Linked DNA regions of Homo sapiens. The protein of the gene in region 3 interacts with the protein of the main gene of each other region in a pairwise test. Each region holds a gene or a part of one and is shown on either strand. Other genes may lie near its edges. The genes, in order: NCK1, PLXNB1, ARHGEF11 and PLEKHG4B.

Evidence for each region.
Region 1: the proteins of ARHGEF11 (region 3) and NCK1 interact in binary tests that used the Homo sapiens proteins (3 or more experiments, as listed by UniProt).
Region 2: the proteins of ARHGEF11 (region 3) and PLXNB1 interact in a two-hybrid assay, tested with the Homo sapiens proteins (2 studies listed by BioGRID).
Region 4: the proteins of ARHGEF11 (region 3) and PLEKHG4B interact in binary tests that used the Homo sapiens proteins (3 or more experiments, as listed by UniProt).

The regions. Positions count from the first base shown.
Region 1 is NC_000003.12:136,942,157-136,949,207, reverse strand, and holds part of NCK1 (SH2/SH3 adapter protein NCK1), read right to left. Parts: intron 3,626-7,051; coding exon 2,913-3,625; exon of another isoform or gene 2,877-2,912; intron 950-2,876; coding exon 755-949; 3' UTR 1-754. UniProt on the Homo sapiens protein: Adapter protein which associates with tyrosine-phosphorylated growth factor receptors, such as KDR and PDGFRB, or their cellular substrates. Maintains low levels of EIF2S1 phosphorylation by promoting its dephosphorylation by PP1.
Region 2 is NC_000003.12:48,403,337-48,406,120, forward strand, and holds the end of PLXNB1 (plexin-B1 precursor), read right to left. Parts: intron 2,463-2,784; coding exon 2,388-2,462; exon of another isoform or gene 2,387-2,387; intron 1,255-2,386; coding exon 1,150-1,254; 3' UTR 518-1,149; downstream 1-517. UniProt on the Homo sapiens protein: Receptor for SEMA4D. Plays a role in GABAergic synapse development. Mediates SEMA4A- and SEMA4D-dependent inhibitory synapse development. Plays a role in RHOA activation and subsequent changes of the actin cytoskeleton.
Region 3 is NC_000001.11:157,042,743-157,049,543, reverse strand, and holds the start of ARHGEF11 (rho guanine nucleotide exchange factor 11), read left to right. Parts: upstream 1-3,801; 5' UTR 3,802-5,213; coding exon 5,214-5,245; intron 5,246-6,484; exon of another isoform or gene 6,485-6,637; intron 6,638-6,801. UniProt on the Homo sapiens protein: May play a role in the regulation of RhoA GTPase by guanine nucleotide-binding alpha-12 (GNA12) and alpha-13 (GNA13). Acts as guanine nucleotide exchange factor (GEF) for RhoA GTPase and may act as GTPase-activating protein (GAP) for GNA12 and GNA13.
Region 4 is NC_000005.10:88,152-95,170, reverse strand, and holds the start of PLEKHG4B (pleckstrin homology domain-containing family G member 4B), read right to left. Parts: upstream 3,004-7,019; 5' UTR 2,940-3,003; coding exon 2,895-2,939; intron 1-2,894. UniProt on the Homo sapiens protein: Guanine nucleotide exchange factor (GEF) which specifically activates small GTPase CDC42 by exchanging bound GDP for free GTP.

The DNA.
Region 1 (7,051 bases), on a different chromosome or scaffold from region 3:
GAGCATCTATTTACAGTTTGAAAAGCTAAATATCTCAGAGACTGTTTTGTTTTCTTGAATAACCAGATGAGGGAGAAGCACTGGAAAAAAATTAAGTGATTTTTATTTCCAACAGTTGTAAATTAAAATTGTACAACATGTTTTCTAATCTATGTCTCATGTGTCTTGCTGTATGACTGAAGACAATGAATGTATTTTTAAAAATTATGGCAGACACAATATACTTGGTATTTACAATGGCCTGTGACAAATATAATACCTGGAAATAATTTCTAATTTTCCACTTATTATTGCTATTTAGTCACAGAAAAGATTAACACTCTCCAAGAAATTTTAGCATATGTCATATATAGATATAATAATTTTATATAATGAAAAACCATAACAGAACAGGGTGCCTTTACAAGGAAACAAAGGAAAGGCAATAAAGGATTTCTTCCATATAAAGATTCTGATATGCATTATTTGATTTTTGTTTACAAAATACAAAACTGTAATATTAGAAGCAAAGGGAAAACAGCAAAGAAAAAAACAATAAAACAGAAGGCCAAGGATAAGGAACTGTTCTATGCAGATGCACTGCATACATAGTATATATGTATGGGCTGAGTTATAATAAAAATACTTATTGTCAATTCTCATATAGATTTAGAAACAACAATTTCCAATCAAGCACGACTGGACCCAACATTTTCTCAGTCTTCAATTACATGACAAATTACAGCTACACAGCAGTCACTTCTGGTCAGCAGTATCATGATAAATGCTTGACAAGATATAATTTTTCTCCTTGTTCACTTGTAAAAATTGGTGCCTTTTTGTAATGTTCTACAAGTTCTTCCATGGTGCTGAATTTACGCTGCCCAATGCAGTAGACAGTCTCTTTTAGTTGGACTTTAAAATGCTTGTTTTTCCCTTGTGCTTTTAGTGATACTGAGAAATCATTTGGCTAAAAGAGAAAAAAAAGATACATATAGTAAACATTTTGAAAGCCCTCTATCAGTATTTTTATATTAAACTAAAAGCTAAAATCTAAGCACTTACTAAGTCCTAGGCACCATGGTAAATTATTTACATAGATTATCTCCTTTACTCTTCAAAACAAACCCTTTTTACACATGTGAAAACTGAGTCTCAAAGAAGCTATTAATAACTTGGCCAATATCATCCATCTAGTTAACAACAGAGCCAGGATTCAAACCTGCATAATCAAAAGTCTCTTAACACCCACGGCTCCAACAGCAGACACCCACAGCAAATCCTTTAGTTAAATATTTGAAGAACAAGAGCTATCTTCTCTCCAGTCAGAGAAACACATGAGAAAGTCTAAGATACCCACCCAACCCCTTTTCAATGTGTAGCTAACAGTAGCTGTCTTAGAGATAACATGCTGAATTCCCAAAAATGAAGAATACACAAATGAGAATTAATCTAAACTTTAAGGAGAGGCTACAAACTCAAATGCCTACAAGAGCCAAAAGAATAATGTAAATAAGTGTCAGAGTGGAAAGGTAGATGGGCAGAGGAAATGACAGTGTATCACCAATCTAAACAAGTGGTGACTTCTCAGCTGTGATTGTTGCCTTGCAGGAACCGGGTCTCAATGTTGGTAGTTCTTCCAATTTTAAATGGTCTAAAGTCTGAATTTTTATAATAAATATCCTAATATTTAAATATCGGCAATGAATTTAAATGTTTAAAAAACACTGTGAAGGCTAAACAAAATATGCCTACTTGAGACCTCTAACCTTAAAAAGTATACTGCTAAAAATAATGGTATATATTGCATTTTGTCTAATATCTACACTCAATTACCCACAAGAAAATACATACAATTCTGCATTCAAGCTATCTTCTTTTTAATTAGTTTTGTTGTTGTTGTTACAGTCTATATCAACCCCCAAAGCCTCTTTTTCTACAGTTACTCCCAAAGTTTCAAACAGTGAGCCAGATCAGGCAACTAACAGAAAATGGATGTCATCACTCTTCCCTACTGCCAACCAACTGCTTTTCTGAGGGATTAGGCACAGGCCCCATTTTCCTGAACTTCACATCAGGAAGTTCAATTAATCTCTCTCCCCACCACACCCCACTTCCACACATTTTCTTTCAAAATTTTGTGCAATTACACATTCCCTTTTGTACAAATATACTCACGCAAAGCCAAGATTAACCATGATTTAATAAATGGAAAAGTAGTGATATCTTTCATCAAGGAAAAAGAAAGGCCATTTTTAAGGAAAATGAGTGTCATCAAATTCTAATATCCTAAGCAGTATCTAAAAGAGACCATGAAACCATATTATTTTTCAACTTTTATGGTTTTATAGTTTTATTGTTTACTAGTATTGCAATATAATTTATCTTTTATTGCAAATGCATTTCAAACACTGCTAAAATAGGTTTTTTGAGGTTATAATAAAAGTGCATTCCAATTTCCAAGTAACCAATTTATGAAGAAACTTAATATCAATTTTTTAAATTCAGGGATTTCCTATGTCATAAGGACTACAGTGACTACCTTCTTACACATTGCATCCAATAGCAATTTTTTAAATGTTTCCCAGTTTAATCTATAGTATTATTCTACTCTCAATGAAGAGGCCAGTGTTCCATTTTCTCCATTTAGTTTAATGCAACAGAAACAGAAAATATATCAGGAATGCAAAATCAACAGAACTAGACAAGACGAAATAATTCAGTGTGTAGCAACACTGCCACAGCTCTCTTTTATTCAAAATAGATAGCTAGAAAGAATGCGGACTTTAGCTTTGGAACATTTATGCTTATGTTACGTCCCAGCTTGTTACCTGGTTAACTTTAGGGAAGCCACTTAACCTCTCCATTTCTCTCTCTCTTTTTTTTAAAATACCCAGAGCTCTATTTGTATTTACCTCCGAAAATCAACTTACCGAAGATTCACTATCACGAATGAGGAAATCCCCTTCATGTCCTCTTTCATTTAATGCCATTTCTGCTTGATGCCTGGTGACTTTGCCATAATACCAAGGATTGCCAGCAAACTTTCCAGTGAGTGAAGGCCTAATGTAATCACACTGTGGAGGTGATGGTTCCAAACCTGAAGTTAATGGATTATTCTGCATAACGGTAACATAGTTTTTTGGTACTAGACCAACCATACCATTGATCTTCCTGCATTTCCACCACTCTGGGTCATTTTCAGGTTTTTCAATAACATCCATTACATCTCCTTTCTCGAAATTAAGTTCTTCATCATTAGATGAGCTGAATGGGTAAAGAGCCTGTACCACATGCAACACTTGCCCAGTATTTAGGTTATTGACGACTGCTGCTAATTTCTCTGACAGAGAACCCACATGGTCACCCAAAGGACTGTCACCTTCTTCAGTTACATAGTTTGAAGGGAACCATCCAACTTGTCCATTGTAGCTACCACGCCACCACCCATCACTGCATTTCTCCATGACGATCACCTTTGTCCCCTTTATCAATGATAATTCATCCTCTCTCTCAGCCATGTAGTTAAATTTCACATAAGCGGGCATGTTGAGGTCATAGAGACGTTCCCCTGGGTCAACAAAACTATCATCAGCAGGAGATGCAGAATCTGGCACACTAGGTTTTCTTTTCACTTTTCCAATGCCTGTTGAAATTAAAAAGGGCCATGAGAGGAGAATATAAAAAAATGATTACCAAAAGAATGAACTTATTCATTATTAAAAAGAGATCTTCAACTCTATATAGATCTTTAAAGCTTTTAAATATAACAAATTTCTATGTAGTTAAAAATCATCTTTTTGGAAATAAGATGCAAATTTTCTTTTTCTTAACCAAATAAATATTTAATTTGTTATTATATGACAGTTCACCATCTTTTCTCTTGTCAAAGGCCCTGAAATAACTATATAACATAATTATAAAGTTGTCCTAAATTAATGAATTCCCTCTTAAATGTAAATATAGATTTCTTTCATAGCTACAATCTAAGTACACAAAGGCTCCACCACACCCATACTCTTCTTGTCTTAGTTTAAGCAAGCTAGATTCTACAATGAGCTGTATAAAAATAAAATTATTTCTATCTTAAATCAGAATATGATATGCAATATAAAATTGCAGTTATGTCTGGCTAATCTTCCCATTTGCTTTCTTGGTTCCCAGACCCAGGTAGCTCTATTTACCTCATATGTTTATTTTAAAATATTATTTGTTTTTCTCCCCTTACCCCAGTCATATGTAACCTCCAAAAGGACAGGGAGTTTTGTTTGTTTACAGATAGAATCCCAAGGATCTTGTATAGTGCTTAGTACACAGTAAATGCTTAACACATATGTGTTGAAAGAAATGAGAAAATCACCAAATGGTACTATCAATACAAATGTACGCTACATCAACTTCAGTCAGGCATTTTCACTGCTGCCCATTTCTTAGCGTGTGATTTTATGCTCTACTTTACCTAGAAAACTGAGGCTTCCCTAGGTAAAACTTCTCAAATTCCTTTTGTCTCAAAACTCTCATTATCCTCACTCTCGTTCTTCACTCAAGTCTCCAAATCCTGATCCTTCTAGGATCTTAATACTATCTTTCCTGACTCTCTTGGGACTCTCGACATCCTTGTTTTCCTTCCTATTTAGTCCCTTCAATTGTCTAAAAACACACTCATATCTTTTCTACTCCAAAATGAAGTTACTTTAACTCTGCTACAACTTTTAAACCGTAACATTTTGGTAATTTATTTATTTTTTCTCTAACTGGTCCAATTTTCCTATAGAATAAACTATACCACTCTTTTAAAAGTTGTCTTTCCCGGCTGGGCACGGTGGCTCATGCCAGTAATCCCAGCATTCTGGGAGGCTGAGGCGGGCAGATCACAAGCTCAAGAGATCGAGACCATCCTGGCCAAACATGGTGAAACCCCGTCTCTACTAAAAATACAAAAATTAGCTGGGTGCAGTGGTGTGCACCTGTAGTCCCAGCTACTCAGGAGGCTGAGGCAGGAGAATCGTTTGAACCTGGCAGGCGGAGGTTGCAGTGAGCCAAGATCACGTCACTATACTCCAGCCTGGCGACAGGGCAAGACTCTGTCTCAAAAAAAAAAAAAAAAAAAAAAAAAGGTTGTTTTTCCTTTTCCCTCGACTTTTTCACCACTCACACTCCCAACTCTTTATTATCTGATCCTTTGTCTCCAACATTCTAACAAAACTACTCAATTAAAACCATTCTTATGAATACCATTCTTATGTCATCTCTCCTTACTGTCAAATCAGTAACTTTTAAAGTCCTCAGCCTTCTCAAACTCTATATGCAGCAACCAAGATCACAGCCCACTCTCTCCATTATGTTTTCTTCTTCTTTGACTTCCCCGAATTTCTTATTTTCCCTCCCAACCTGTTTACATATTCTTGTTTACCTCTGTCTAGGCTCCTCTAACCTTGTTATTATAACACTGCATTGTACTTGTTTACTTGTCTGTCTTCCTCAATATGAGTGAACTTCCTGAGGGCAGAAAACGAGATCTTATTCGTTTCTGTCTCCAACGCTTAGCAGTACATACATCAGTAGTAGGAACAAAGGAAAAACAAAATTATGTATTCAGCAGTCAGCAAACATGCTGAATGAATAAATGAAGAATTCCTTAGCTGAAAGTGTTTCACAAGATGACATACTTGACCTTCCTCTCTATTCCAAGGAAATCATACACTTTCATTTTCTATAATTTCTGTGCAGAAGGTTCCCAGATCTCTTTGCAGCTCTAAGACCTTTCTGGAATTCAGGCATTACAATTCCAACTGTCACTAGACACCCACAGATTGTGCCATCAGTACCTCAAACCCAACACTCATGTCCAAATAAAAATAATCCAGTCTATACCCCTAAATCAACTTCTTCCTTCCTAATTTTCTTACTTCCGGTTAATGATAGCCTTCAGAGAAATCCCTACATTTGGGGTGATACCACCAAAAATAGTAGAGTAAGGAACTCCAAGGCACTGTCCCTGCAAAAAGCAATGAATGCAATTAATGAGCTGGTAAATACTGTCAGACTCAACTTTTGCAGAACTCTGGAATCTAGTAAAAAAAAAAAACTTATAAAATCTAGGGCAAGGCTTGGTAAAGAAAGAAGTTGCTGCTTTGTGGTAAAGAGAGTGCTATCGCATCCTAAGTTGCCTGCCCACCATCCCCCACACCCCAAGTCAGTGATGGCTGTGTGGACAGTAACCTGCACTCCTAATGCCAGAGGAAGCAATACAGATCTCATTCTTAAACAATTGTGATTGTGGGTTTCAACTTGTCTGGCAGCTCCCTGAAGGACCTGAGCAATGGCTTGCCTTGGCTTTGCCTGACTTGAATCATTCCCAGGCATAGGGAGTCTTCCTGGGTGGTTTTTGCAAAAATCATTTAATGGATGCAGCAGCCTGGGGCAAGGGACAACAACTGGGACAAGGAACAGACAGATGGAAAAGCCTGGACAGAAAGGGGATGGGAAAGAATATACATGGGGTAATAAGGGGTGTGTATACCAATCAAGAAGGACGTGCACATGGCCAGGGCTGGATGCACATTCAGGAAAGGCCCAAGAAGACCCTAAGCTTTCACCCTGGCTGATCTTCAGGCTTTGAGCAAACAGTAAGCAAAGGCTAAGGCAGAATTATAAATGGCATCACTAAGTGGTCAAAAACTGCCCCAACATAAAGCCATCTGTAAAGATGGGGAGAGGTTTTCTTTTGTTTGTTTGTTTTTTCTTTTGGCTCCAGGTGTTTAACGAAACTCTGTTAAAACCCTAGCTGATTACTAAGCAAATGGAATAGACTTCAGCGGCCCCACATGACCAGGAATATAGAGCTTATAAAAGTAGTTTAGTAAAGTCACTAAACAAGCAAACAACAACCACTCACAATAAGCAGCAGTAATAAGCCCTGGGGAGGGGATAGAATCTGATCTGATGCTGAAAGCAAAAGAGCCAACAAAGAATTCTATATTTAGCAAAACTGTCCTTCAAAAATGAAGGAGAACATAAGACATTCCCAGATAAACAAAAACTAAAGGAATTCATCACTACCAGACCTGTG
Region 2 (2,784 bases), on a different chromosome or scaffold from region 3:
CTCCAGGTACAAATCAGGAAGAACCATATAAGGCGGCCTTCATGGAGGCAGACAGTTTAGGAGCCGGCCCTAGGATGCCCTGATTTGGAAGGCAACACAGAAACCCTAAGTCCAGGAACAGGACCATGGAAAATGGCCCTCGAGACCCCCTCTGCCTAGAGTTGCCTGTAATTATGTCATCCTTTCCTAGTCCCTTTCAAGATAAATAGAACATGAGTGGAGAAGTGAGAATACGCAAACTGCAGATAAAGCAGGCCCCCTTGAAGAGACTGTAGACCCCTCTATCTCGGTCACCCGCCCTGCCCCAGATGGGGTTCTTCCTTCACGGAAGCTTTGACCCCACCAGACCCTGCCCAGGCGTCAAGGAGAGCCTCAGCCAGCCCTGCAGTCTGGGATATGATGGGGAACCATGAGACTCCCCAAGAGTATAGATACCACCTCCCCCTGGTACCTGCTGGGCATAGCTGCCGTCCTCCTAGTAGCCAGGGGCTAGGCCGGGCTCACACATCAGACTCAGTGCAGTGTGTTATCCTTTAATGAAAAGCTGGGTCAATGGAGTCACCACTCTCCCCAAGACCCCCCTGCAGCAGATAGCCCTCACCATGGCTACCTATGAGGCAGGGCAGCCCTGTGGCAGCCAGCCCTGCTGAGGGGTCAGTTTGTAGTGGCCTAGGAGAGGCGTTCAACTCTTAGACCTAGGATGTGGCAGCAGCAACAAGGCCAGAGGCAGCTCAACTGAGGTCAGGGATGGTGGAGGAGGCAGACAGGAAGCATGGGGCTCTCCTCCTTCCTCTCCGAATCCCAGTGTGGCCAAGGCCAGTGTTCAGGAACAGTACAGTCTCCCCAGGGGCCTGGAGTCTCTTCCAGCCACTCTCTGGAAGCCCTTAGTCCCCAACTCCCTGCAGACCGGTGTCACAGGGTCGCTGGACTCGGGGAGCAGGCTGGGTACTACCCCATGAGCCTTGAGGCCCCGGGTCTAGGAGGTGGATCCAGCAGGGCCGAGGCCAGAGCCACCAGGAGACTGGGAGTCACCTTCCACTAACTCTGCTTGTCAGTCACTACAGGCACCTAAGAAGGTGGCCTCTCCTCCGAGCTTCCAGGGCTGCCCAGGCCAGGCTGAAGCAACAGCAGGCCGTGGCTCCTGGGTTCCTATAGATCTGTGACCTTGTTTTCCACAGCAGCTGCAATCTGCTGGAGCCGATAGCCCAGCTGCATCTTCTGGGCCGTGCCATCCTCCTCCAGGGCAGTGATGATCTGAAACAGAGACCAATGCCATCAGGGGAGACTTCTTTGGCCAACGTGTTTGCTGCAAAATTCAACAGCCCTCCTAAGACGCTGTGGCATGAGTGGGGTAGGAGGCCAAGAAACCCAGCCGGTCACTTCACGTACTTTCTGGGACCTCAGGGCCTCGCTGGCGGGAGGGGTAATAACATCAAAGTCACCGCGGGGTTCCAGGATGAATAAGGTAGGAAATGAAGGACCTGACTCAGTAGCGAGCTCCTCAGAAGCCCTGCTGCAGCCATCCTGGCTAACCCACCCGCCAGCCAACAGTATTTCCCAAGTTCCTGTCTGCCCGGTGCCAGACAAGGGGCAGAGACCCAAGAATGACCAGACACGTGGTGGGAAAACAGACACTGATCAAACACGAACCACGAATTTGGGGCTGCCACCAAGGGAACCGGTAGGAACCGGAGGGCAGCAGCACTTGGGAAAACAGCTACTGCCCACTATGTCTCCACAAGGGGACATGCCTGCATCACACCCTGCCTCCCCCAAGCCCCGTGCCATGGCCCACACCATGCCGAGGAAGGCTGTGGGCCATGAGACAGGTTCCTCATCTCTGAGCAGCAATAGCCATGTCACTGGTGCCACACAAACATCTAAGTGGACTATTCCACCAGGCATCCAGCAGGTTGACTGGCAGGTGCTCAGCTCTTCAGGCACAGCCCAGGGATCCTCCAAAAAGCTTCACCAGCTCCAGTGTACCCTCACACCCCTGGCCCTGTGCCTGGACTCTCCTCTTCGCAGCTCATGCAGCCAAGCCAGGCCTGCACTTGCATGTTGGCCGTGCCCAACATGCTGCCAACTCAGCAAATGCACACCATCTCCAGGCCCTGGTAGACCCCTTGGCCCCCACAACCACCAGCACTGTGCCTCGCCGTCCTGCTGGGGAGCTGGAATGGGGAGCAGTGGGACAGGTGAGAGCACAGCCAATGCCAGGAAGCCCGCCTGGAAAACACTTCTCAAGCCACCAAGGGGCCCGGCCCCCCACTACTCTGTCCCTGGGGAAGACCAAAGCCCCCAACGTGAGTCACAGGGTCAGAGCCCCTTAAGTCTCCTGGGAGGCCTTGGGTCAGCCTCCCAGTCGGGGTCCAGGGCCTGCCCACCTGGTCATAGTACTTGTTGATGTACTTGTAGAGTTCATGCAGGGCCACTCGCGCCCCGAGGTCTCCGGAGTAGTTCTAGGGAAGAGGCCAAATGAAAGGTGAGAGAGACGAGGGGTGCAGAGAGCCACAGGAGGCAGCCCAGGACCCCAGGGAAGGGCTGGGGGAGAAGGGGACCTGAGAGGTAGAGAATGGGATGGGCACTACAGTGGGAAGCAGAGTCCCCTCCATGGCCCAGGGACCCCAGGCCAGGTGTGCCAGATGGGGACAGAACAGGGTAGAGCAAGGGGGCCTCCTTGGTAGGAAGACAGCCCAGGTCTACCTGCTTCAGCAAGGTCTGGGGTTTCCACTGAAGCCCTGCCTCTCTCACCCCCTTGAGGTTCTAGCCCAGACCCTCTGC
Region 3 (6,801 bases):
CCAGCACTCTATAGCTTACAGAGCCCAGGCTTGTTCATATTAAATCCTTACAAACTGCAGATGGCAGTTCACAAAGTTATCTAGTTCTCCGGACTCCTAGTCTAGTCTAGCTCTTTCCATTGATCACCAGCTGCCTCCAGATTCCTACAACCCAGTCTGTCTAGGACACAATCTAATCTATTTTGTTTTTTAACCTGAGACTTGCAGTTTACTTAAATGGCCAACTAACTTCAGGGAACTCTATCTTACTAAAGCCACCCTCATAATCTTCAAAGTGGAGTGTTCAAGGAGATGCTTGAGGAAAATACTTAAGAATGCACTCATGGCCGAGGCGGGTGGATCACGAGGTCAGGAGATCGAGACCATCATGGCTAACACAGTGAAACCCCATCTCTACTAAAAATACAAAAAATTAGCCGGGCGTGGTGGCGGGCGCCTGTAGTCCCAGCTACTCGGGAGGCTGAGGCAAGAGAATGGTGTGAACCTGGGAGGCGGAGCTTGCAGTGAGCCAAGATTGTGCCACTGCACTCCAGTCTCGGCGACAGAGCGAGACTCCGTCTCAAAAAAAAAAAAAAAAAAAAAAAAAGAATGCACTCATAATAGTATTTAATTATAGCAAAAATAATTAGGTTTTACTAACACTAATGACATGGCATTCTCACTCAGTCACTATGTCAGAAGTCATCTGTCACACACAGTATATGAGGAGGTTCCAAGAACCAGAGGTAACATCACCATTGACGTTCATTTTCTTCATGATGTACGCCACCCACCAGACAAAAACAAGCCTGTTAACTGCTACAAACTTTACAATTCTTTGTAATGACAGAGAATGACCATGAAAATCTTTGCTGTGCAGATTAACAATCTCCTGGGGAAAGCCTAAAATGAAATACTGAACATGGAGGAGATGCACAGTTTTATTTCAGTGTTCTATGATGAGAAATGGCTGTCAAGAGTATGCTACCTAGCACTTACTTGCAAAAACAAAAACAAACAACAAAAACACCGCTTAATCTGTCCCTTCAAGCTGTCCCTTCAAGGTTAAGATGACAGTCTATCTACGAGCGAGGAAGTCACTGCTTTTCTAAAGAAACACATACTTTAGGAAAAAGTATTTTGAAGACGGATGACTGGAAATGGTTCCAATATTGTGATTTTTTTAATTACCAAAAACAATGGTTTCACCTATCAAAACCTTTGCACACTGAAAAATTAGGAAACAGAATTTGAAAACCTATTTTTTAAAGTTAAATGAAATTTCTTAATGGCTGGAACCCATTTGTTAAGAATATAAAAATGTAACACCTTCCAATCATTCAAGAAGGATTGACTTAAGATATAAATTTACTAGTTGAATTTCAATTAGAAGTCTTTGCATTGTTGATGAATGGGATTGGAAAATAAGTATCATGATTTAATAAATGCAATCAAGGGCATACTTCTTCTGTTTGAATCTACCTATCTTTGGCAAGCATCTTTTCCAGTTATGACAGCAATTAACTTTCACCAAAAAGCATGATTTAAAAAATGTTCATTTTTAAATTTCAACCTTTTAATATTTCTACACTAGGCAATGTTGTATAAGATATGTAATAAAATATATGTAAATACTTGCTTTAAAAATATTACATATATTAAGAACACATTATCATTATTATTATCATTTTGAGATGGAGTTTCACTCGTCACCCAGGCTGGTGTGCAGTGGCGCAATCTTGGCTGATTGCAACCTCTGCCTCCCGGGTTCAAGCGATTCTCCTGCCTCAACCTCCGGAGTAGCTAGGATTACAGGCGCTCCCCACCATACCCAGCTAATTTTTTGTATTTTTAGTAGAGACGGGGTTTCACCATGTTGGCCAGGCTGGTCTCGAACTTCTGACTTGAGGTGATCCACTCGCCTCGGTCTCCCAAAGTGCTGGGATTACAGGCGTGAGCCACCGCACCTGGCCAAGAAAACATTATTTTAAAATGTGTGGCAACCAGTGGTCTGTCACCACAGAGCAGTGTCCACATTTGAGAGCATCATTTTTGCGGGTAGTATGGGAAAGAAAGACACAATTAAGTCAGCAACAATCTAGACTGTGCTTCAAATGCTGGGCAGATCACCTGTTTTGGGGAGTTCTGGCCTAGGGGTTGGTGGAGACAGGGTGAAGGAAGCAGGTTCTTTTATTTGCCAACCTATACCTGATATACATTAAAGGGAAAGTTCCTGGTTCATAGTAGGTCTTCAACTGATGCTTATTCGTTTCTTTTTCCTCTTGCAATTTGCATATCTACCACTTCTAACACTGGTGAGGTCACTCCAGAGCTCACGAATGTGTATAGATAATTTACATATACATATCCACCCCCTCCCAGAACAATCCAGGTAGTGTGAAAGGAGAGAACTTATGCAAACACCCCACTGCCTGCAGAGTATTTTACAATGGCATTTACCTAGGCAAGAAGGCAAAGTCCACTCCCCAATCCTAGTGAGAGTTTTTTTATTTTAATAATTTTTTAAAAAAAATTTTATTATTATTAGTTTTTTGAGACGGAGTCTCGCTCTGTTGCCCAGACTGGAGTGCAGTGGCGCAATCTCGGCTCACTGCAAGCTCCGCCTCCCGGGTTCAAGCGATTCTCGTGCCCTAGCCTACCGAGTAGCTGGGATTACAGGCACGCGCCACCACGTACGGCTAGTTTTGTATTTTTAGTAGAGGGGGGGGGTTTCACCATGTTGGCCCAGGATGGTCTCGAACTCCTGACCTCAGGCCCCGCCTCGGCCTTAATGATTTTTAATCATAACGCTCGGCACCTTCTGACAAATGTCACGTTACTTGTAAAGATTTAGAAACTGTGATTCTATGAGAGGGGGTTATGAAAATAGAATTGCTCTGGAAAGGCTCTTCCATAGAGTTCAAAGACACTTCACACAGCCTGCTATTAAGATGCCCAACCCAACCCGAGAGGAAACAGCGAAGGGTCTTCCCCCTAAGTCGGTGGTATTAGAAGTGGGAAGGACCACAGAAACGGGAGGAAACAGTTAAAAGAACTGACACCACGAAGGAGGCCGCAACAAATGTTTGAAAAATAAGATCAGAAGAGAGGTGGAGAGAGGGTGAGCCGCAGCTGCGGGCGCCGGGGTAATGCCGGTGGACGCAAAGAGGTAAACCTGCACCCGTGGGCAGGGGCACGGGGCGCGGGCACGGTGGCTGGGCGGGCAGGGGGTAGGAAACAAAGGTCGGCTCCCGAGCAGAAGTCAATAAAAGGGGGAAAAGCAGCCGAGGAAAAGCGGCGAAAAGGCGGCAGGGGTGGCGGTGGCGGTGGCGGCGGCGGGGACGGCGCGCGGTGCCTGGCGGGGTCAGGGCCGGGGTCGCCCGCGGGCCGGGCCGGGGATCCGGCTGAGATGGGAACCCGCTAGGCCGCGCCGAGGGGCAGGGCCGGCGACTGAGGGGCCGCAGAGGGGACCGGCCGAGGAGCGACGGCAAAGGGTTGTGGGGGGCAGGGCGCGCAGGGAGGCCGGGACAGGGGCGGGCCGGTCGGCGGGAGTCGCGGCCGCGGGAACCGAGGCAGGGAAAGGCGGTCAGCTTCCCGCCCCCGCCCCCGGCCGCCGCGGCGTGAGGGGAAAGGCCGGCGGGCGGCGGGCAGCGCAGCGAGGAGGAGGAGCCTGCGGCCCCGCCCCGCGGGAGCGAGGGAAGGAGAAAGGCTCGCAGGGAAGGAGGGAGGGAAGGGGGGCGGCCGGCCGGGCCTGCGCCCGAGCGAGCGGCGAACCGAGGGGGAAGGGGCCCGGAAGGAGGCGAGCGCGGCCGCGACGCCGGCAGTCGGACGCCCGCTCGTGCCGGCCTGCCGCAGCCGCCGCAGCCTTCCCTGTGCGCCGAGCCTGGCGTCCCGAGCGGCCGCGAAGGCCGGAACACGGCGGTCGGGCGCGGGGCGAGCGGCGCCGGGAGCCCGAGGCCCGGCCGGGCGTCCTGCGCGAGGCACTGCGGGCTCCTGCCTGCGAGATTAGGCGAGGGGCGGAAAGGGAGGCAAGGAGAGGCCGAGAGGAGACAGGCGATCGGATTTTCCAGGAGTCTGGTGTGGAAGAAAAACCCACCTCGAACTCAAATCCACAATAATAATCCGAACGAATAATAAGGGAGCCGTCTTTCTGGCCGGGCGAGAGAGAGGGAGAGAGAAGGGGGAACGGGAGGAAGCGAAATCTCCGTTTCATGGAGGCTGAGGCAAGAGAAAATTTCGGAGCCTGGATGTGGAGGAGCCCAACAGCAGAACTAACTCAGGAAATTGTCTTTCAGAAAAAGGCCGAACGTAGGCTGGGTCTGAGAATCAGGCTGGGGTAGGTGGAGGAACCTGCAAGTTTAAAGGAAAAAGAAAAGGAGAGAATATTTTCAGAGATTATCTCTGGTTTGTTATCATTACTACCATCTTAAAGGTAAAAAGCATTGCATTTCAGGTGTTCTTTGATTTTTATTTTATTTTTTTTTTTGGTGCAATTGGCTCATTTAAGAATTTCAAAACATTTAATGTAAAAGCTTTTTTTTTTTTAAGGAAGTCCATAAATTTTGGTTCCCAGGGTTGCACTGGACTTGGAAGGAGTGCTGTTGTGTACATACTATTGTATGGTTTTATTTATTATTTTACTGTACAAATCAGCCGAAAGAATTTTTCCAAGTGCCATTTCGGATTTATTAATCCTTTTTTTTTTCCTTTCCTCAAAGATATTTGCTGTTGTCATATTAAGCATTGGAGACTAGAAAATTACTTTCCCCCTTTGAGCTAGAGGGTCTCTTGCCAACAGAAGGACAGCTGAGAAAGCTGGATTTAAAGGATGGTTTTATCTGTACTTTGCAGTTAACAGTGATATTTTGAAGGCACATTTTTCTGTGATTCATTTTTTTTTGGCCATAGTGCTAACCTTGAAGAGATTCGTGGCTGGGTTTTTGGTTTCTGAGAAGGTCGTAGTTTTTCCTCTTTTCCTTTTTTTTTCTTTTTTCTTTTCTTTTCTTTTTTTTTAAAGCGGGGGAGGGGAAGAGGGGCTGAGAAAGGAAATCATGTTCACTGGTAGAAGTAGAGTGGAGCATCAGTTACCAGGGTCCTGAGAGCTGGAGGAGAAAGGATTCTATCTTCAAGTTGGGAGGCCCTCCTCTCACCTTGCTCAAAAATTGCAAGCGATTCAATCCTGATCAAGACACCAAAGCTACAGGATTCTGGAACCGTGGAGACACCGAGAAACCATGAGTGTAAGGTTACCCCAGAGTATAGACAGGTAGGTTTGCTAATAATTTGATTTTTCAACATTGACTAAAGGAAAGACTGGGAGGGGTGGTGTTGCATTTTAATAAATGGTTGAAAATAGGGGTCTGGGTGGGCTATGGGAATTGGTGGGCTAGGAGCATTAGTCTCTGGGGACTGTCAGCCTATGTGGTTATGTGCAAAAACATAGCTCTTGATTCAGCGTCTTTTGAATATAAGCAATAAACAGTGAAGCCAGGAGAGGGAAAGGAGGAGGATGTGCTTCCAGTGGCTTTTGACTTTTGCCAGGGTAGAGGCTGAATTTGAGTCCACCCAACTTGCTAGTCTCAGGTGGGGGCAAGCCAGTCTTGTGAGCTCCTAGGGTTGCACTAGGGGGACTGGCTTTAGGTGTTGGAGCTGCTGGGAGAAGGGCCCTGGCAGAGGCGTGGGCCTCCACCAGGCTGGTTGGTATGGAATGGTGGGGCTTGGTGACGGGGTGGATCCCATTTCTAGAAATGAAGAGGATGTTCTTGGCCTGAATGATGGGACAGAAACATCCTTTGCACCCATGCAAGTCTGGATTTTTACCAGTAGCTGACATGGTCCCAAAATGCATAGATCACATTAGAATTTCCTCTCCTCCAAGCTTAGAGTTTGAATTGAGACCTGCCAACCGGCTGATGCTCTAGGTTTAATCTTCCAAGCTGTTCTTAATAAGCTTGACTCTGCAAAATGGGCCTTCCCTCTGCCTGGAGCCAGAAGAAATTGTTTTGGGCTCGTAGGCCTGCTGGGCAGCAGCACTGGCCCTCAGAGTCTGAACACATGACACCCCTTGCCCCAAGAGTCTGCCCAGCCACCTCTATCACTGGTAATGTTACTGTGTGGTTGCAATTCTTACCTCCAAATGATTGGTACAACTTTGTAAGGTGTCTGCCTTTTCCTTCCCTCCCCTACCCCTCCTCAACGCTTCTCCCCATGAGAACCTTGCTGTGGGGGGTGTGTTTTGTGGGCACTGCACACATCCTAACTGGATAGATGGGTGGTTGAAGGACTGAACAAGCAAATGAAAGGACTGGGCCTGGAAAAAAATATTATTGGAGAGATAGGGAAGAATATTTGCAAGGGAGCAATTGTTCCCTCCATGCCCAGTCCACCTTCGGTTATCCATGCTAATAATAATTTCCTTTTGGTTGTGGAATGTGGCCTAAAATGCATATAATCTCTCTCTCTCAAGCACTAATCTCTGTATTGCCTCAGAGTCCCATTTAGATTAGTTCAGCAGTCCCTAGATGGGAACTGACTTGGCAGTGGAGAAGAGGAGGCAGACAGCCACAAAGGATGTACGGCCAGTTCAGACCTCCTTCCTCCTTTCTGTTGGCCTCTCTGCAGTTTGACCCTTGGAAAGGGAGAACTGAGGTGTGTCAAGGTGAGGAATTGGAATGGTTTACATGGCTGCCCTTCTTCCCTTTTCATCCTCTTGGAGTTTGAGAATTAGTGCACTTGCCTTTTTAAGATTTGGATGGTGAACTCTTTCTGGTAAATGCAAGGATTTGAGAAGATGGGAACCCAAGTTTTGGGGGCGTGCAAGAA
Region 4 (7,019 bases), on a different chromosome or scaffold from region 3:
AAGTATCTCTTTTGCACAATGTGATTTTCTGTCAGGGGAAATTTTGTAAGATCAATCAAAAAGAATTCAAAAGCTTTGTCTTTGAGAACCTGGGCCCAGGTGTGAACTGCGGCCCAGAAAAGTGTCCCAGATATCACAACGACATAGGCAGCTTTCAATTTAGGAACATTCTGTTAAAGGACAGTAACATAAGTGAAGAATGCAACTGTGTTTCCTTGTTAAAAGCTTGTGTACATCTCTTTTCAAGTTTGACTCTAGGGTACTCGGAGAGGTAGGTGAGGCACAGATGATTCCTGTAAACAATGAACAGACTGAAGCTCAGAGAGGCTGAGCTACTGGCCCGAAGGACAACAGCTCATGGAGGGTGGATGTGCTGGTTTCCAAGATTCCAGGCCTGTTCTTTGGACAAAAGATCGGGGTCTGGAGCCTGTTACCCACTTCACAGACACCTCCCCGAGAGCCCCCCATAAGGTAAAGGGAAATGTTGGGTGCCTTCTGCTTACCAGAGTCCAGATTCCCAGGCCCAGGACCAACACCTTCAGGATGGAACCTGCCACCTCTCAACCCCCTCCAGCCCCGCCAGCCACTCATCCCAGCCTACCCCTCTTCACTCTCCCCCTGCCCAGATTCCCAGGCCCAGAACCAACACTTTCAGGATGGAACCTGCCACCTCTCAACCCCCTCCAGCCCCGCCACCCACTCATCCCAGCCTACCCCTCTTCACTCTCCCCCTGCTCAGAAGCACGTTGGGGTCTCGGGTCAGACAAAGTCTGAGGCTCTGTCTTCAACAGCATGGTGGAAGAAGGGAGCCCCTCACCACACACGTGGCACCTGAGGTCTTGGCTGGACCCAACAGCACTGGCCTGTCCACAGGGAGCACCTGCCCTGCCAGGTGTGGGGCGACCCAGGTGGGGAACAGAACCGCTGCCGCAGGGCACAGAAGCACTGATGCTGTATCAGCCAGGAGAGGCACCAAAATTTCAGGGCCCTTGAGGGGAGAAGGAGAACCAGGACCTTGAGTTTGGCTCAAACCTAGCTTTGCTGCTTCTTGGCAGTGAGATGCTGGGCAGGTGTTGAAGCCTCAATTTCCACTATCTATAGAATGAGTAGCCCCACCTTGGAGGTCTGAGGTGAGAGTTAGGAGGCTCTAGATGGCCTGACTTTTGTTCAAACGCAAAGAGAGGACAAACTCATTCTGTTTGGAAGGAGGGAGGCAGTGGTGTCTGAGCTAGACTCAGATGATTTCCCACAAAAATCTCTGAGATCTGGGGATCTGGGGCCTCCTGTGTTTGGCTGGATGATACAACCTGTGAATACAGGTCTCAGGGAGCCTTGGGGCAAATTACTTCCTCAGCCCAGCATTTCTGGGCTACTTTACAAGTAACGAAGAATTCCTTTGAGACCACCGGCCAGCTTGAGAGCTAGCCAGTGCCACAGATCCCACAAAGGTGATTTCAGACTAGACCCACCCCCCAGAAAGGCCAGCAGCGCCCCTCTACCAGGATAAAAGATGAGAAGGCTCCGGCTAACACAGGGGACCTGACACCCTGGCCTACCGGCTGCCTGCGGGGTCAAGCCTGTGTGCTCCCAGCCCAGGCCACATCTGCATTTGCACACCGGATGCCGCACAGTGAAATAAAAACCTGGTATCTCCTCAGAAGCAGGAATATGAACCCACTTCTCGGTGGGGGGGTCACCAAACACTGCTTCCCAGTGGGTTGTGATCCCATAGGGAATGGAAATGCTGAATATATCACAGAATCTCGGAGACGGCGGCCTCCTCAAGATCTCCGAAGTTCCTTCTGACCCAGAGAGCCTGGAATTTTGTGAATTCGAGGCAGGCTCAGGGAAATTGAAAGCTAAAACTCACCTTTGTCCACATTACATGAAGATTTACATTAAATCTCTTCGGGAAGCTGAGAAACCTACCTTCCCAGGAATCTTGATTCAGGACCCACCCAGCTGCCTAAGGCTCAGTCAAAAGTATCAATTATGCACCGTTTCAATGACATTTAACTTAATTTTTAAATTATATGTTTCAATTCTTAATTAGACACCTAGACGTACCAACTAAACTTTTTAGGCAAAAGTGCTGTTGGGTAACAGGAGTAGAGTGTAATTACCTCACCTCAACCACTCTTTAGTTTCACACGAAACAGGGAAAGGCAAACCCAATATACTTTTTGCAACTCACATGAAAAACCTGAAAACAGCTTTATCACTCTTTCACCAAAGCTGAAATAACTGTCTTGTTTTACTAGCAAATGTTTCTTACTCAAATCAACTAGCACTCCAACACAAAAGTCAATCTTGGTATTTTTAAGTAAAAATTCTCTTTGTTCCGGGCCACCACAGATCACTGTTCTGTCCCACCGGTTTGAGCTGAAGAGTAACTTAGCAACTCTCAGTTTTGGCGATGAGATTTCAGACTCCCCTCCCCTGGCTCCCCTTCAGGCACCGAGAGGGCAAATCTGTCCAGAAAGCGTTATTTCTTCTCCCGAGTATTCACGAGGTTACAAGGAAAAGGGTGCCTGAAGAAGCTCCCTCCCGTTCCCGCAGCAGCCGCCGGCAGGTCCCAGGACCCACGCCAGGACCCCCAGCACGTCTGGGTACCCGCGCCCCCTCCCACCCCAGTCCCCGCGCCCGCCCGCCTTGATGCTCGCGCCTTCACCCCGCCCCTACCCCCGCGCCCCCACCCGCCCCTACCCCGGCGCCCCCACCCGCCCCTACTCCCGCGTCCGCTCGCGCCCCCACCCCACCCCTACCCCCGCGCCCCCACCCGCCCCTACTCCGGCGCCCCCCCCCACCCCGCCCCTACCCCCGCGCCCCCACCCGCCCCTACTCCCGCGTCCGCTCGCGCCCCCACCCGCCGCAGTCCCCGTGCCCCCTCTTACCCGGGCGCCTGGGCCGCCCCCGCCGTCTGCTGTGCTGAAACCCATGCTGGACCCTGGTCTCCCGAACTCCGACGCTTTCCCCGAACTCTGCCTGGTCCCGCTGTGCACTGGGCCGAGGCCGCCTTCGCCGCGCGCGTTCCCGGGGCCCCGCCCGATCCGGGCGAGAGAGGGGCGGGGCCGGGGTCTCCCCTAGGAGGCTCCGAGGGTCCGGCCGGGGCGGGGCGTCTCCCCTGGACCCGGCTGCGCAGCTCCCGCCTAGCCCCGGACGCGCCCACCTGGGCGGCTCCTCCCCGAGCGCGGGCGGCAGTGGCTTCTGCTTTTGTTCTCTCGGAGCCCGGAGCTCGGGGACCTGCCATTTTGTGGATGCCACGTTGCACCCGGACGGGCCCCTGGTTTCCATAACGTAGAGGCACAAATCTGAATGCTCCAGGGCAGAGGATCTGACCCCTGAGTTCTGCCAGTGTACCCGGACGGGACCCCGATTTCCCCTGGTCTAGGCGGACCAGCTCCAGATTTCTGCAGGTGTGGACGGCCCAGGCCCTCTCCTCCGTCCAGGGGCCGCTGTGGGAACTACGTGCCACCCCGCGCCTGGCTTGGATAATGAAGGGCTTCAGCGAGGGCCCCAAATTCCATCACCCTCCCCCCCCACAACTCAGGGTGCCTCGGGGTGTCTGGTGCTCTGGAACATGCTTTCCCCAAAGGTGCAATTTTAATGCCTTGATCTACAAAGAGCCTCCCAAAACAAAGTCCCTCTCCCGCCCGTTAGTCCAGGGTGCTCTGGGCACCAGCTTCCTGCTGGGAATTCAGCTAGGGAGTGTCTCATAAGGTCCACTCCGTCCAGGAGGGCCTCACAGGGACCCCACCTCAACCTGTCCCCTCAACTTGTCCCTCACCCCTACCCTGGCACCATCCCAAAAACTGCGGCACAGATGTGCTCATTGACAGATAATGCTCCGTTTTGTCACAGGTTACAGAGTGGATGAAGCTCAGGGACACAGCTGGGAGCCTCCCTCCTATGCAGCTCAGGGACACAGCTGGGAGCCTCCCTCCTATGCAGCAGGCAGTCAGTCTCCCTGGGATCTCCGTCGAGGCCTCCTTGAGTCTCTGTCTACTCCTTCCTAGAATCCCTGTCCACACCTCCCTGGGATCCCCTCGAGGCCTCCCTCCCTTGAGTTTCTGTCTACTCCTCCCTGGAATCCCTGGCTGCGCCCCGCCTTGATTCTCCATCTACACCTGTGTTCTCACTGTTCCCTGTCCTGCTTACTTGCTCTGCTTCCTAGAACCTCCAGCCCCATCCCTGAGCCCAGGCAGGGAGCTGACCTGTTCCTGCCCTCTGTGCTGGGTATCTGGGTGTCCCTCTGTGCTGGCCCCTACCTGAGGCCCCCAACACCCCTGCCACACCCTCCTCCCAGCCCGTCCTCGTGACAGTACTGCCCACGGTGCTGTCCAGGATGGGAGCCACCTTTCTAAGCCTGTGTGGCCCCACAGCTCCTGCCAGAGCAGGACCCAAGAATGCTGGCATGCCTCCAGAATAAACGGCTTCATCCCTGTTCAGCACCTCCAGGACGGTCAGCAGTGACCCAGTGGCGCCTGGTCAGGGTGCAGCCCGGAATCTCACTCTTACTGGAGACTTTGGGGCCCGTGGTAGGAGCTCACCCCTGCCACACCTCCACTATACAGAAAGAAAGTGGGACCGTGTGGGGCTTTCTCAGCCCAGGAGTCCTTTGTGAGCTTCTCCAGCCCGTTTCTACAGATCTGGTTCTTTCTTTGCCATGGATCCATGGAATTAGGGATGTTTTCTAGGGAGTTTTTCCAAAACATGGACTATTAACATAGCTTGGTTTATTCAAAAAGTACTTACTGATCAACTACTACTGGTAGTCACAGCACAGCCCCCATCTCTGGGAAGCTGACATTCCAGTGGAGGGAAATAAACCAGTGGACAGAACACAAATCCGGTCAAGGAAGGCCTCTCTGATGGGGCAGGCTGAGCAGACACTGAGAGGAAGCTACCTGGGACTTGAAGGCAAAGGAGCCACCTGTGCAAAGGCCCTATGGGGTGGGGGGGGGGCAGATCTGGTGAGCTCACAAACACAGCGAAAGTGGGGACACTCAGAGGGGATGGAGTTAGAAAGGAAGCGACCTGTTCCGACTTACATTTCAGAGAGCTCAGCAGGCGGAGGCAGGAGATCAGGAAGTGGATGCCTGATCTTGGTGAAAGTGATGAGGTTGGGTTCCAGGGGAGTGACAGAGGTCATGGGAAATGGTCAAAGCAGGACCTGTAAAGGCAGAGGGGGCAGGACTGCTGAAAAGCTGGCTGCGGAGACAGAACCCAAAGAGCACAGAGGCAGACACTGAATTAGTGACCCTGCCACCGCCCCCCCCCCCCGGGGTGTGCCCTCCAGTGTGCAGAAGCTGGAGGCCATAATGCCACGCTCCGGGATCCCTTGCAGCTGGTGTGCAGATGTGCCCGGTTTTGCCAGGAGATGCACCACATGAGATGTGGAAGGAACACAGGAATCGGGCTGGACACAGCAGATGGATGTTGAGGTGTTTGGTTCTTCTGGGTCCCGTCCCTGGCATTGTTGGTGCTGAGCAGCAGGGGACGGGGAGGGGGGTTTCCCTAACACAGTCCTACAGCGTGGCTGGGTGTTTCTCCAGGGTTGTGGTTGTTTCTCGCTGTTCTGGTTTCCTGACTCTCCCATGGATGCTATGATCTACCCAATGGCTTCACACATATCCTCACTGCTTAAATTAGCTATAGCGGATTCTGCTGTCTGCAGTCACGAGTCAGCACCAACACAGCAATTCAAGGATTTGGGGCCTGACCAGCAGGTGGAAGGTGTTTCCACTGACTGAGATGGGAGAGACTGGAGAAGCATGTCTGGGGGGAAATGCCATATTAAGATTGAGATGCCTATTGAACATACTGAGTGGACTGACTGCTGTATGAGTTTGGTGCTTGGAGTAGCGGTTGGGTTAGAGATGTGGTTCTAGAACCATCTACCACACAGTTGTGTCTAGACAGGTGGAACTAAGTGTGTGGACAGAGGGGAGGAGGAACCAGGACTGGGCCAGGAAATGTGTCCATGCTTAGAAGTCACAAGAGTAGATAGATCTCTTTCACAAACTCTTTTTAAAAACTGGAATGGAGGGACCGCTTCCTAACATATGGTAGGAGGCCAGCCCTTCTCAGATACCAAAGCCAGATGAAGACATTGTGAGTAAAGAAAAACTACACACCAATATCCCTTATGACTACAGATGCAAAAAGCCTCAAAAGAAAGTCAGGGAATAGTATGTTAAAAGGACTATTCACCATGACCGAGTGGGATTTATCCCAAGAACACAGGGGTGGTTCAATATAAGAAAATCAGTCAATGTCGTGCACTGCAGTAGCAGCACGAAGGGAGAAAACCCACACGATCATCTCAATCGATGCAGAAAGGGCTTCTGAAAATGCAATACCCTTTCAGAAAAAAAGTTCTTGGAAAACAAGGATGGGAGAAAATTCCTCAAGTAATACAAAGTATTTATGAAAAACCCACAGCTAACATCATACTCAATGGCAAGACTGAACATTTTCCCCAAGATCAGGAAGAAGACAAGTGCCCACTGCTGCCATGTCTAGTCAACACTCTGCTGCAAGTTCCAGCGACAGCAACAGAGACAACCAACAAAAAATAAATAAATGAAAGACTTTCAAATTGAAAAGGATGAGGTAAAACTCTATTCACAGGTAACATGTTCCTATATAGAGAAAATTCCAAAGAATACACAAAAAGCTACTAGAGCTAATACAAAAATTCAACAGTTACAGGGTACAAGATTAACATGTGAAAATCGGTATTTGTATTTCTATACAACAGCAATGAACAATATGAAAAGGAAATTAAGAAAGCAATTCTATTTACAATAGCATCCAAAAGAATTAAATACCTAGAAATAAGTTTAACCAAGGAAGTGAAAGATTTGTATGCTAAAAACTACAAAATATTGAGGAAGAAGTTCAAGAAACAAATATATGGAAAGCCAATGTCATGTTCATAGATAGAAAGACAACATTGCTAGGACGTAAATACTCATCAAAATGATCTACAGATTCAATGCAATCTCTGTCAACAT